Linked DNA regions of Homo sapiens: region 1 is linked to region 2. The links come from fine-mapping of genetic effects on gene expression. A gene starts in region 2. The other region holds a variant in brackets. All regions are shown on one strand. Distances are from middle to middle. Region 1 has its middle 14 kb from the start of CEP162. Region 2 holds the start of CYB5R4 (cytochrome b5 reductase 4).

The links. PIP is the estimated chance that this variant, and not a neighbour inherited with it, causes the effect. A credible set is the group of variants that fine-mapping cannot tell apart.
Region 1: its variant is the best candidate, but not a certain one, in a credible set for the expression of CYB5R4 in whole blood (INTERVAL, PIP 0.87).

Annotation. Positions count from the first base shown.
Region 1 is chr6:84,238,944-84,244,330 of GRCh38, reverse strand. No RefSeq gene overlaps it. Among named protein-coding and RNA genes, the nearest start is that of CEP162, 14 kb to the right of the region's middle. RefSeq lists an enhancer at 1-627. The variant G/C (reference allele first, on the strand shown) is at 2,694.
Region 2 is chr6:83,857,691-83,863,077 of GRCh38, reverse strand. CYB5R4 (cytochrome b5 reductase 4) reads right to left here and starts at 3,389. Exons shown (of 16, transcript NM_016230.4): 1 at 3,221-3,389. The coding sequence starts at 3,295. The region is part of intron 3 of RIPPLY2-CYB5R4 (RIPPLY2-CYB5R4 readthrough); the gene reads right to left. RefSeq lists a silencer at 3,269-3,318.

The sequences.
Region 1 (5,387 bases), 380 kb before region 2:
CTACTGGGAACTGAGGAGCCCCTCTGCCCGGCCACCACCCCGTCTGGGAGGTGTACCCAACAGCTCATTGAGAAGGGGCCATGATGACATTGGCGGTTTTGTGGAATAGAAAAGGGGGAAAGGTGGGGAAAAGATTGAGAAATCGGATGGTTGCTGTGTCTGTGTAGAAAGAAGTAGACATGGGAGACTTTTCATTTTGTTCTGTACTAAGAAAAATTCTTCTGCCTTGGGATCCTGTTGATCTATGACCTTACCCCCAACCCTGTGCTCTCTGAAACATGTGCTGTGTCCACTCAGGGTTAAATGGATTAAGGGCGGTGCAAGATGTGCTTTGTTAAACAGATGCTTGAAGGCAGCATGCTCGTTAAGAGTCATCACCATTCCCTAATCTCAAGTACCCAGGGACACACACACTCTGCCTAGGAAAACCAGAGACCTTTGTTCACTTGTTTATCTGCTGACCTTCCCTCCACTATTGTCCTATGACCCTGCCAAATCCCCCTCTGCGAGAAACACCCAGAATGATCAATAAAAAAAAAATAAATTAAAAAAAAAATAGAATACTTTTATCAATTATAGACCCCACAAACCCAACTGAAATTAAATGTTATATTTATATTTGAAAGACAAGTAGTCAACAATACTTTGCACTTTAAAATTGCTCTTAAAATATAAATTGAGAGCACTAAAGTCAATAATTAGCCGGATGTCCTTGGAATCCACCAGATAATTTTATTCTTAAAAATTATTTTTCTTAATTTATAAATGGCATTAAGTAGATTGTGACTTCTTTTTTAAAAAGGCCTTGTAAGAATAAGTTTCAGTTTAAATTTCAAACTTAAATTTATTTTCAACAAAGCTCACATTTTCTGCTCTAAACTGTCCTTTCATGACCTCTGATGGTGAAAATGTAAACTGACATTACAAATACTATCAGAAATAATGCCACAAATTCCATTTACCTTATTATTGAAGAACTTTCTCCTTTTCATATTTATTTACCTTGAGAACATAATAGCATCAATTATTCAACAATATGGAAGTAATGTTGGACAATTTCATACTACTCCAAAGTGTTTTTTTAAAAGCCCTCTTATTCACAGCTTGTAAGTCTCTGATAATGTGTGCAATTTACATAGTAGAATGAACATTTTAGTGATATAGCAGCTTACTATGACTACCTGCTCTCAAATGTAAATTGAATAAATAATAGAGTTTAGATAAGTTGAAACAAATATTTTAATTTACAAAATCATTACTCTTCCTAAGTCTCGGTAGTTATGAGTAAGAAAGCAGACTTGCATATTAAAACCTCAATTCTTTATATTATTTTATTGTTTCAACTTAGTTAATAAGATTGTTCTCTAGGCCTGAGTTTCTTCCAAAAAGGCTTGCTCACAAGGAATTTATCTGGGAACATGGACCCGGAGAGCAGCTCTATGATTGGGGGAATAAAAACAGGGAAAATGAGAAAGCTGAAACAAGAATTCATTGTCAAATGACTGCAGCTATGGCTAACCTGTGCTGGATTCAAAGATCTTTTGAGAAGCCCTAATTAAATGCATGAAGAAAAGAGTATCATTTCTCCATGGGCTTCCACTCTCCATGAGTGAAGGTGGCTCCTGGGACTTTGACTACCACATAACCACTTGCAACTTGTGTATGTGTGGCATTTCAATGAACATTTCACACTTCAATGTCAGAAAAGTTCCAAGGAAGGGAGAAGCTCAGACCTTGGCTAAAAGTGAGGCAGTCTTCAGCTGCACCTGCAGGAAGCTGGTCAAAGTCTACAAGAATTGGTTGTTGAAACAAGGACTGCAGTAAGATATGGCACCAAGAAGATTTGAAGTGATGCTCACAGTGTTATCTGATGCAGTAGATCCTTTGCACTACTCAAATCTATCTTTTCACTTCCTTAAGTTCAATCTATCTCAGAGTCCCCTTTAAGGAGCTGGCCAGCCACAATCTCTGCAGGAGGGTTTCTGGAACTAGCTACAACCCCTGCTACAGCTGGTCCCCAGACTTTATTGAAAGGCATCATCTCTGTCTTCCATTACCAATGCTAGATTTCTCTTGCCCTTGGCCATCATCTCATCTGATTTAAGGTTTCTTGCCTGGCAGAGTAACCCAGACCTTTTTCTCAAGGCTTGCTTTTCCTTTATCACATCATAGATGCCATAACCACCCACTCACCATTATTACCTGGCATGAAAACACCAGCAGATGCATCAGTCAAGTCACTGGATAGTCCTCTCTGCCTCCAGTTACAATGGCTCTTTACATATGTAAGGATAGACTAGACTTTCAACTATATTAATTTTCTTTCGCCTGCTGATCCAGGAATGAGGAGTCCAATCACTGGAATGAAGAGCCCAAAGAGATAGTCAGCAAGAGATAGTCCATTTCTGTGGCACTCTTACCTGGCAGAAGTGCTCTGCCTCCTGGGAACCAGGACCTCTAATCCAGCAAAGCCTAAGATTTCAAACCTTACAAATAAGTCACCTGGGAGTAATGGTGAAAGAGACAAATTGTACTTCCAACCCTTGGTTCTTGAATCCATGTATTCTAGCTTAAAGGACACAGCACCATATATCAGCCACTGATATAATACATACATGTATCTCATCCTGTCCCAACCTGGAACTTCAGATGAGTCTTCCACAGGCTATTTTACCATAGATCATCAGCTTCCA[G/C]GTGATGAGGTATTTAGTAATCCCAGTGGATTCTATCATCATGCACCCATTGCTGAACCACCTTTGCCATAAAATGAGCTACTTGGGCAGAAACAATGTTGTGAGACATGCCATGTCAATAGGTAACACTTTCTGCAAGCCCTTAGTTGGTGGTGATGGTGGAGGCTTTACTGGCAGGGAGTGCAAATCCATTACTATAGTAGGTTTTAATTCCAGCAAGGATGAATTTTTGCCATCTCCATGGTGGAAAGGATCTAATAAAATTAATCTGATATGAAATGACTGGCTGGACTCTGACAATTTCATATTGAGGTTTCACCACCAGCCTCTACTACTGACAAGTTGGGCATTCAGCAGGGGGCAGTAGTTAGATCATCATTAGGGAGCTGTGCCCATTAATAGCCTCTTTTCCAGCTGTGGTGGCAAATTTGTTCACAAACCAAGTATCCAAGCAGTGAGATATGTAAAAGCGAAACAGAGTACAGCTCACACCCACAGAGAAACCTAACCTGTGTTATTTGTTGTCAAGTACCTCTTATTTAGAGTGCTCATTAGTGAGCATTAACATGAGGCATAGCAATGCTGTACTAGTCCATTTTCACGCTGCTGATAAAGACATACCCAAGACTGGGAAATTTTCAAAAGAAAAAGGTTTAATGGACTTACAGTTCCATGTGGCTGGGGAGGCCTCACAATCATGATGGAAAGTGAAAGGCGCATCTCACATGGTGGCAGGCAATAGAAGAGAGCTTGTGTAAGGAAACTCCTCTTTTTATAACCATCAGATCTCACAAAACTCATCCACCATCACGAAACTAGCACGGGAAAGACCTGCCCCATGATTCAACACCTCCCACCAGGTGCCCCCCACAACATGGCAGTTCAAAATGAGATTTGGGTGGGGACACAGCCAAACTATATCAAATGTGCATGCTATGTACCTACTTCCATAAATCCATCCATATGCCTCTTTCCCCAGATACACTTGTCTTTGATCTTTTGATCTTGTTTTTATCAAGGCCCCTGAACAAGAAGCAAAGCCATTTGTCACTACCCAGTAGTCTATGTATATGCTATAGATAATACCTCAGGCCATGTCTATCTCCATGTAAGTAACTGAAAATGTGCTCTGCTTAGAGCTCTTTGCACTGGTAGAATTTCTCTGTATTACATTTCTTTAGGGATACCTGTGAGTGTAGCAGTAGACTGACAACAGTCTATTTGTGGTTGGCATCAATAAATCACCCTTATTCATGTATGAACCAGGCCAGGGTATTTTCTCCTTCATTCGTTGGTCATAGGATATACCCATGAGGTAACAGGAAGAGGAATTCCTGTGTGAATCAGGAAGCAGCATAGTGTGAAAGGGGTAGTTATGGGAGTCTTGTTCATCCATTCAGGTAAAGTACATTACTTCTATGTTCTGTACCTGCTCAGGCCTTGTACCATTTCCACAACAGAGTGGATTTTCTGCTGTGCCTATTTGATGTTAGACTTGATAAAGTTGATAATTCTCAGTTCGATATGGCTCTAGTCACATAATCACTTTGCCATTTGATTTTTTCTTTTTTTTTCTTTTGGCTTTATATTTCTTTATTTCAGGAAAGTTTTCTTCTATTATACCCTTAAATGCTTTAAATATATATTTCTAAATTGTGATAAAAATACATAAAATTGCCATCTTATCCAGTTTTAAGTATACAGTTTAGTGCCACTAAGTACTTTTCATATTACATCTTTTACCACCATCCATTTCCAGAACCTTTTCATCTTCCCAGACTGAAACTTCATACCCATTTACCAATAATTCTGCATTCCTCCCTCCCCCAAGTCCCTGGCCACCACCATTCTACTTTTTGTCTCTATTAATTTGATGACTCTACGTACCCTATATAAGTGGAATCATATAATATTTATCTTTTTATGACTGATTTATTTAATGTAGCATAATATTTTCAAGGTTCATTCATGTTGTATGAATTTCCTTCCTTTTTTTCCACATTTTTAAAATTATACTGTAAGTTCTGGGATACATGTGCAGAATGTGCACATTTGTTACATAGGTATACACGTGCCATGGTGGTTTGCTGCACCCATGAACCTGTCATTTACATTAGGTATTTCTCCTAATGCTATCCCTCCCCTAGCGCCTAACCCCCAAAAGGAGCCAGTGTGGGATGTTCCCTTCCCTGTGCCCATGTGTTCTCATTATTCAACTCCCACTTATGAGTGAGAACATGTGGTGTTTGGTTTTCTGTTCCTGTGCTAGTTTGCTGAGAATGATGGTTTCCAGCTTCATCCATGTCCCTGCAAAGGACATGAACTCTTCCTTTTTTATGGCTGCCTAGTATTCCATGGTGTATATGTGCCACATTTTCTTTATCCAGTCTATCACTGATGGGCATTTGGGTTGGTTCCAAGTCTTTGCTATTGTGAATAGTGCCTCAATAAACATATGTGTGCATGTGTCTTTATAGTAGAATGATTTATAATCCTTTGGGTATATACCCAGTAATGGGAATGCCAGGTCAATGATATTTCTGGTTCTAGATCCTTTAGGAATCACCACACTGTCTTCCACAATGGTTGAACTAATTTACACTCCCACCAACAGTGTAAAAGCATTCCTATTTCTGAACATCCTCTCCAGCATCTGTTGTTTCCTGACTTTTTACTGATCACCATTCTAACTGG
Region 2 (5,387 bases):
TCTATGGAACTAAGCTTGTCTGACTAATTTGTAACGTAGTAACAGAAGAATGTTTAATGTAAAAGCAGACACATTCAAGGATGTTTACATATCTCACTTTCCTGAATCATATCTATTTTAGACATCCATTTACTCCCAAAGTAACCAAGTTAATAGGTCTGTGGTGCCTTTCACATTCTATCCTATCAATCTACATCATTCCATTCTGGCTATCACTGAAACTCTAGGTCTCTTGATCCCAATAAATGAAGTGTGAGAAAATGACCTTTCCCATCCCAAACTAAAATCACTCACCTCTCTCCATTCCATAATCCACAGGATAGTTAAAGCAATCTTTCAGAAATGCAAATCTAATCACAGGCTCTCCCTCCTTCAGTGGCTCCTCAGGTCACCTTACAACAACGTCTCTAAATTCCCTAGGGATTTACCAGGTCTTCACAATCTGGTCACAGTTGACTGTACTAGCTCCATGTTCTAACTTTTGCTCCTTTCCATTATATACTTTAGCCAAATGGGAACTGATTATTTGATTCCTTTATTGCTGTCAAGTACTTGCTTATAGTAGTGTTGCTTTCCCTGCATGGATCAACCTCACTCCAACTCCCATTAATTCCTCTGGAAGGCTTCTCTGATCCTCAACTCCTTAGTGGTCATACCACCCTGTTGTAGTACTTATGACTTTATAACTGAATGTTCACTATTTCATGCAACCTATGAGACTAAACACCTTGAAATCAGAGACCAAAAACTCCAGCATATGGTAGGTTCTCAATAAGTATTTGTTTACCAGTATTAATAGAAATAATAACTATCATATGTTGAGTGCATATTCTGTGTCACACTCAAGTCTGTGAGATCTGAATAAAAGCCTCAGGACAAGTAGCATTTACTGGGTGCTTACCAAGGCTGTGCTAAGAGAAACATTATCTCATTGAATCCTATGAACAATCCTATAAAATGGGTACTGTTATTCTCATTTACATCTGAGGAAACAGACTCAAAGAGATTAACTGGCAGATATGGTGAAAGAATCTAGGTCTTTCTCACTTCAAAATCTGTGCCTTTAAAAAATTACAATAAGCCTTCACTTAAGCTAGTCACTAGGTGCTTGGAAACTAAACTATGTACAACGAAACTAATTTTACCGTGGGTTAATTGACAAACAAAATTTCCTGCAGCATATTTCTGGTCACAAAAACATCACCAGACTTCTAAATAAAGACCAAAATACTTCTAATATTAAACACTGAAAGAAATGTTAGCTATATATACATTTAAGAAAGATTAATTAAAAAACAAGTAAGATAATTATTTACCCAACTATTCCAGTTCAATGTCACAGGTAGTCAGAGCCTATCCCAGTAGCTCAGGGCACAAGGCAGGAACCGACCTTGGACAGGATGCCATCCTATGGCAAGGCACACTCATACACACCCAATATTCACACAGACTGGGACCATTTAGACACACCAATTAACCTAACTTGCATATCTTTGGGCTGTAGCAGGAAACCAGAGTACCCAGAGAAAACCCACGCAGACACAGAGCATGCAAACTCCAAAGACAGTGGCCCTGGCCAAAACGAATTTTTTTTCTCATCAATATTATAACTAAATGCTGTTGAATGAAACAACACTATTTGAGAACCTTTTGTATAATACACGACCTTCCCAACTTGGTTCTATTTTCTCAACCTCTACCCATTTCATCCAAACCTGACTCAGTTTTTACATTCTCAGCATCATCTTGTTTCACAAAGAAAAGAGGAAGAAGACTGGAGTCTGACTTTTCCTTAGAATTGCACAATAATCTTATTTTGTTCTCTTTTTGGACCAAAAACTCACCTTTGCCATCGCCCCCTGTGTGACTTTTTGTCTTTGCTTCTAAGTTTTCTCCTTTAAATGGATGCTAAGAACACAGTTGGTATTTTTAACGAAGAAGGGCAGTAACTCATATTCTAATTCAGAGATTCTTTCTGGAAAGACTGTTATTCAGTCAAGTATTTAGCTTCAAGAAATAGGTCAAAAACCAATGAGAAAAATATACATGATTGGATGGCTAGATGATTGATATATGAATCAGTAAATGAAATTTCACAGCAGAACCACAACACAAGCCTACGCAATTTAGGGCAATATTTCTTAGCCAGTTTCCTTTTCTGCGAAATAGAGACAATAAAAGCTTTCACTTCAAAGGATAATTGTGAAAATTAAAGTTAATACATGCAAAGCACTGAGAATATACACGGCCACCCGTAAGTACTTAAGAAATCTCTGGAAAGCTAATGAAAACCACAGATCCCTGAACCTATATTCATTCTGAACTAGAATCAGAACGCCAGGTCTAAGTGGAGAAAAATAAGAAAATCGATAAGGGTTCCAAACGATGCTAAGACTCAAGAGTTAACCGAGTGGCCCAAGTTAAGTGGAAGTGTCACAAACGAAAGATAAAGATATGGTTACAGAATGAGGAACTAACAAATAGGAACAAACAACATTCGCAAAAGAACAAAGAACACAATTTTTATTGAATTCTGCAAATATAAAATATATCTGTACAGTATTCCACCTGTTGCTAACAGCAACTGTGCTCAACAAGAACTCAAGAGTATTATTATATTTGCTTCGAAGTTAGCAAGTGATACTAGTAGAAAAGGCAATGACAAAACAATCAGGTACCAGAGGAAGAAAGAAAGGCAGTATGTCTTGGATAGTGTCTGTAAACCTGACCTAGCTCCCCAACTCCAGAAGTCCCCATCCTTGCACGGACGGTCACTGTCGCCACTGCCAAGCCTTTCCCTCCTGCGAGGGAACCCACATCGAGTGATGTGGTACAACTCCTTCAGGCAGTGAAGAACAAAAGACCAGGGAGAAGATGAGGTTGAGGGAAGGCGGCTAATACCGAGAGCCTATAATACCGCAAACACAGTGCCTGGCTCTGTCATATAAATTTAAATCGCGGGAAAGGACTTGGAGGAAGGGAACGGATAGAGCGGGATAAAGGACCAGAAAGAAGAGGGACTGCTAGGGGAAAGGGAGGAGGTAAGGAGAGTTTAGGGACTGTAGACAAAGTGGGATCAGAAAGAGGTTGCAGGCAAGGACAGCAGGGAACGACAGCTTAGAGAGGGGTGCAGGAGCTGGGAGTTGGGGCGGAAGAAGAGAACACACTGCCAGAGCTCGAAACGCAGCGAGGGGAGAGACTCACGGAGCCACCCGCTTACCTTGCTACGCCCCCCGGAGGCGACACGCTGCTGCGACCTGGGGGCCGGGAAAGACTGGGAAGGGACGTTCAGCATCTTCAAACCCCGGCCCCGGGCCCTGCCCGGGGATCGCCGCCAGACGGGACAGCACCTCCAGCTCCGGCTCTGTGGCCGGGCAGAGGCCAAGCCCCCGACCCACTTCCGGGGTCGCCAGGGGTGAGGCGCATTCTGACGCAGCACGTCCGCGGAGGGCGGAGCCAACGGGACGGAGGGAGGGCCGGCAGGGAGGAAGTACGCATGCTCAGCTAGTTCCGCATCCCGAACTTCAGCACCGGAGCAAGGTGACAGCTATTTCGTGGAAAGATTAGAGAGTGAAGCTGTTCCTTAGCCTTGGTGCTGACCGAATGTGGGAACAAATTCTTAGTCCTGTTAACCCGGAACAGCAATGTCTGTTCATTGTTAAGCAGTACCATCACACTACTTGAAATATGGACTAAAACACACTACTTGAAATATGGACTAAAACGAATTTTAGTTTCTCTGAAATTCTTTCCTGTAAGGCACTAGGCTGTAATGCAAAGAGCATCTCACACCTTTAAGAGCAAAAATATCAAATGTCAACAGCCACTACTGTGGGGTAAGAAGAAAACCTCACCTTTAATCATCCTTAAACTTCACCTTTAAGCATGCTGAGGGCTAATGAATGCGCGAAAGACGTTAGTAAAGTCACCTTCTGCTCTATTCACCCACTCACAAATTCTCCCTCCTTATGTAACTTCCTGTCTTCACTGGGAATTGTGTACTGATGCAGCTCACCTCCAGCTGTGGTGATGAAGTAACGTTTAAAAGTCAGATTTGGTTTGCATGCCATCCCTGCACTTAATGACTGAGCTGTCTTATGCAAGTTACTTTAGTATCTCAAAGTCTCATTTTCCCCATCTGCATAATGGGTTTATTAAAGATTAAAGGATCATGTGTAAACTACATACTGCAGTGCCTGATTAATATTAGGTACTGAATAAGTGGCAGTGGCTGTTTGTGCTATTCCAACATATTAATGGGAAAAGGACCAACACTGTGCAGGTAAACACCAGGCTCTAATGCTCAAAATCTGATGGTTTTTGTTTGTTTGATTGATTGTTTTGTGTGTCCCTTGGGGAACACATAGATCTTGAGAGTAGAATCCAATAAGGGAGAAAGTTTTCAGGAGAAGAAACATAGTTCTAAATAATCCTCCCCATCCTCCTTTAATTACTAATTTTTCCTAACTCTGAACATATTGTCATGCTTTAAACTTTCTCTGTTTAACTACTTAGTTCTTAAAGTGCCTAAAAAATCAAGGTTATGTTTGCAGAATCAGAAGAAAAAGTGTGTGACTATATGTGGCCATTCAAATACAAGCATTCAAATAAGGTAGCCACCTATGACATTCACCTCTATCCATTTTTATTTGCAATTGAAATGCTTATTATGAGAAGACTGAATTTGAGCTAAAAGAACCTCATGACTATAATTAACTGTATTACTTTGACTTTGCAAATTGCTTCTGTGTTCTCTCTCATTAAATGATGACATATTCTTCTAGAGTCTACACAAGAAAAACTAATCACTGAGATTTATTTCACTTCTCGTGAGAAAACTTTTACATAAGAATATCAAAAGCAGAGAACCAGAGCAAGGAAAAGTTAATATTGTTGAAGAATGTTCCATGCTTTCCAAATTTCTTAGCTCCCCTTTGTACAGAAATGGAAGATGCTATCAACTTCTGGCCTTTAGACTCCACTTTTTTAGACTCCATATCAATCACTCAAATTTAAACGTTTTGTTTTAATTCTAGGGATCCCTCAATGTAGTACATTAAGTATTAAACATCCATACTATTTTACTACTGGATTTAAGGACTGAAGAGGAGTATTAAAATATGAGTTACTTTGCTCATCATTTATTTAAAATATCTATAATTTAAAAGCCCTAAGATTGATTCCCTTTTTCAATTACAGGTAATGATTTAATGTGTTTTTCTCCATCTGCTAAGAAATCTTTACTAATAAATGAGTGATTTCTAACATAAGTCTATTTTCTTCATTATCTAATAAGATAACATTGATATGTAACTACAACATCCAACTGGCATCAGTAGGAAATAGCAGATGTTAAAAGATTCAGTCTTGAGAATTAAATACTGTCA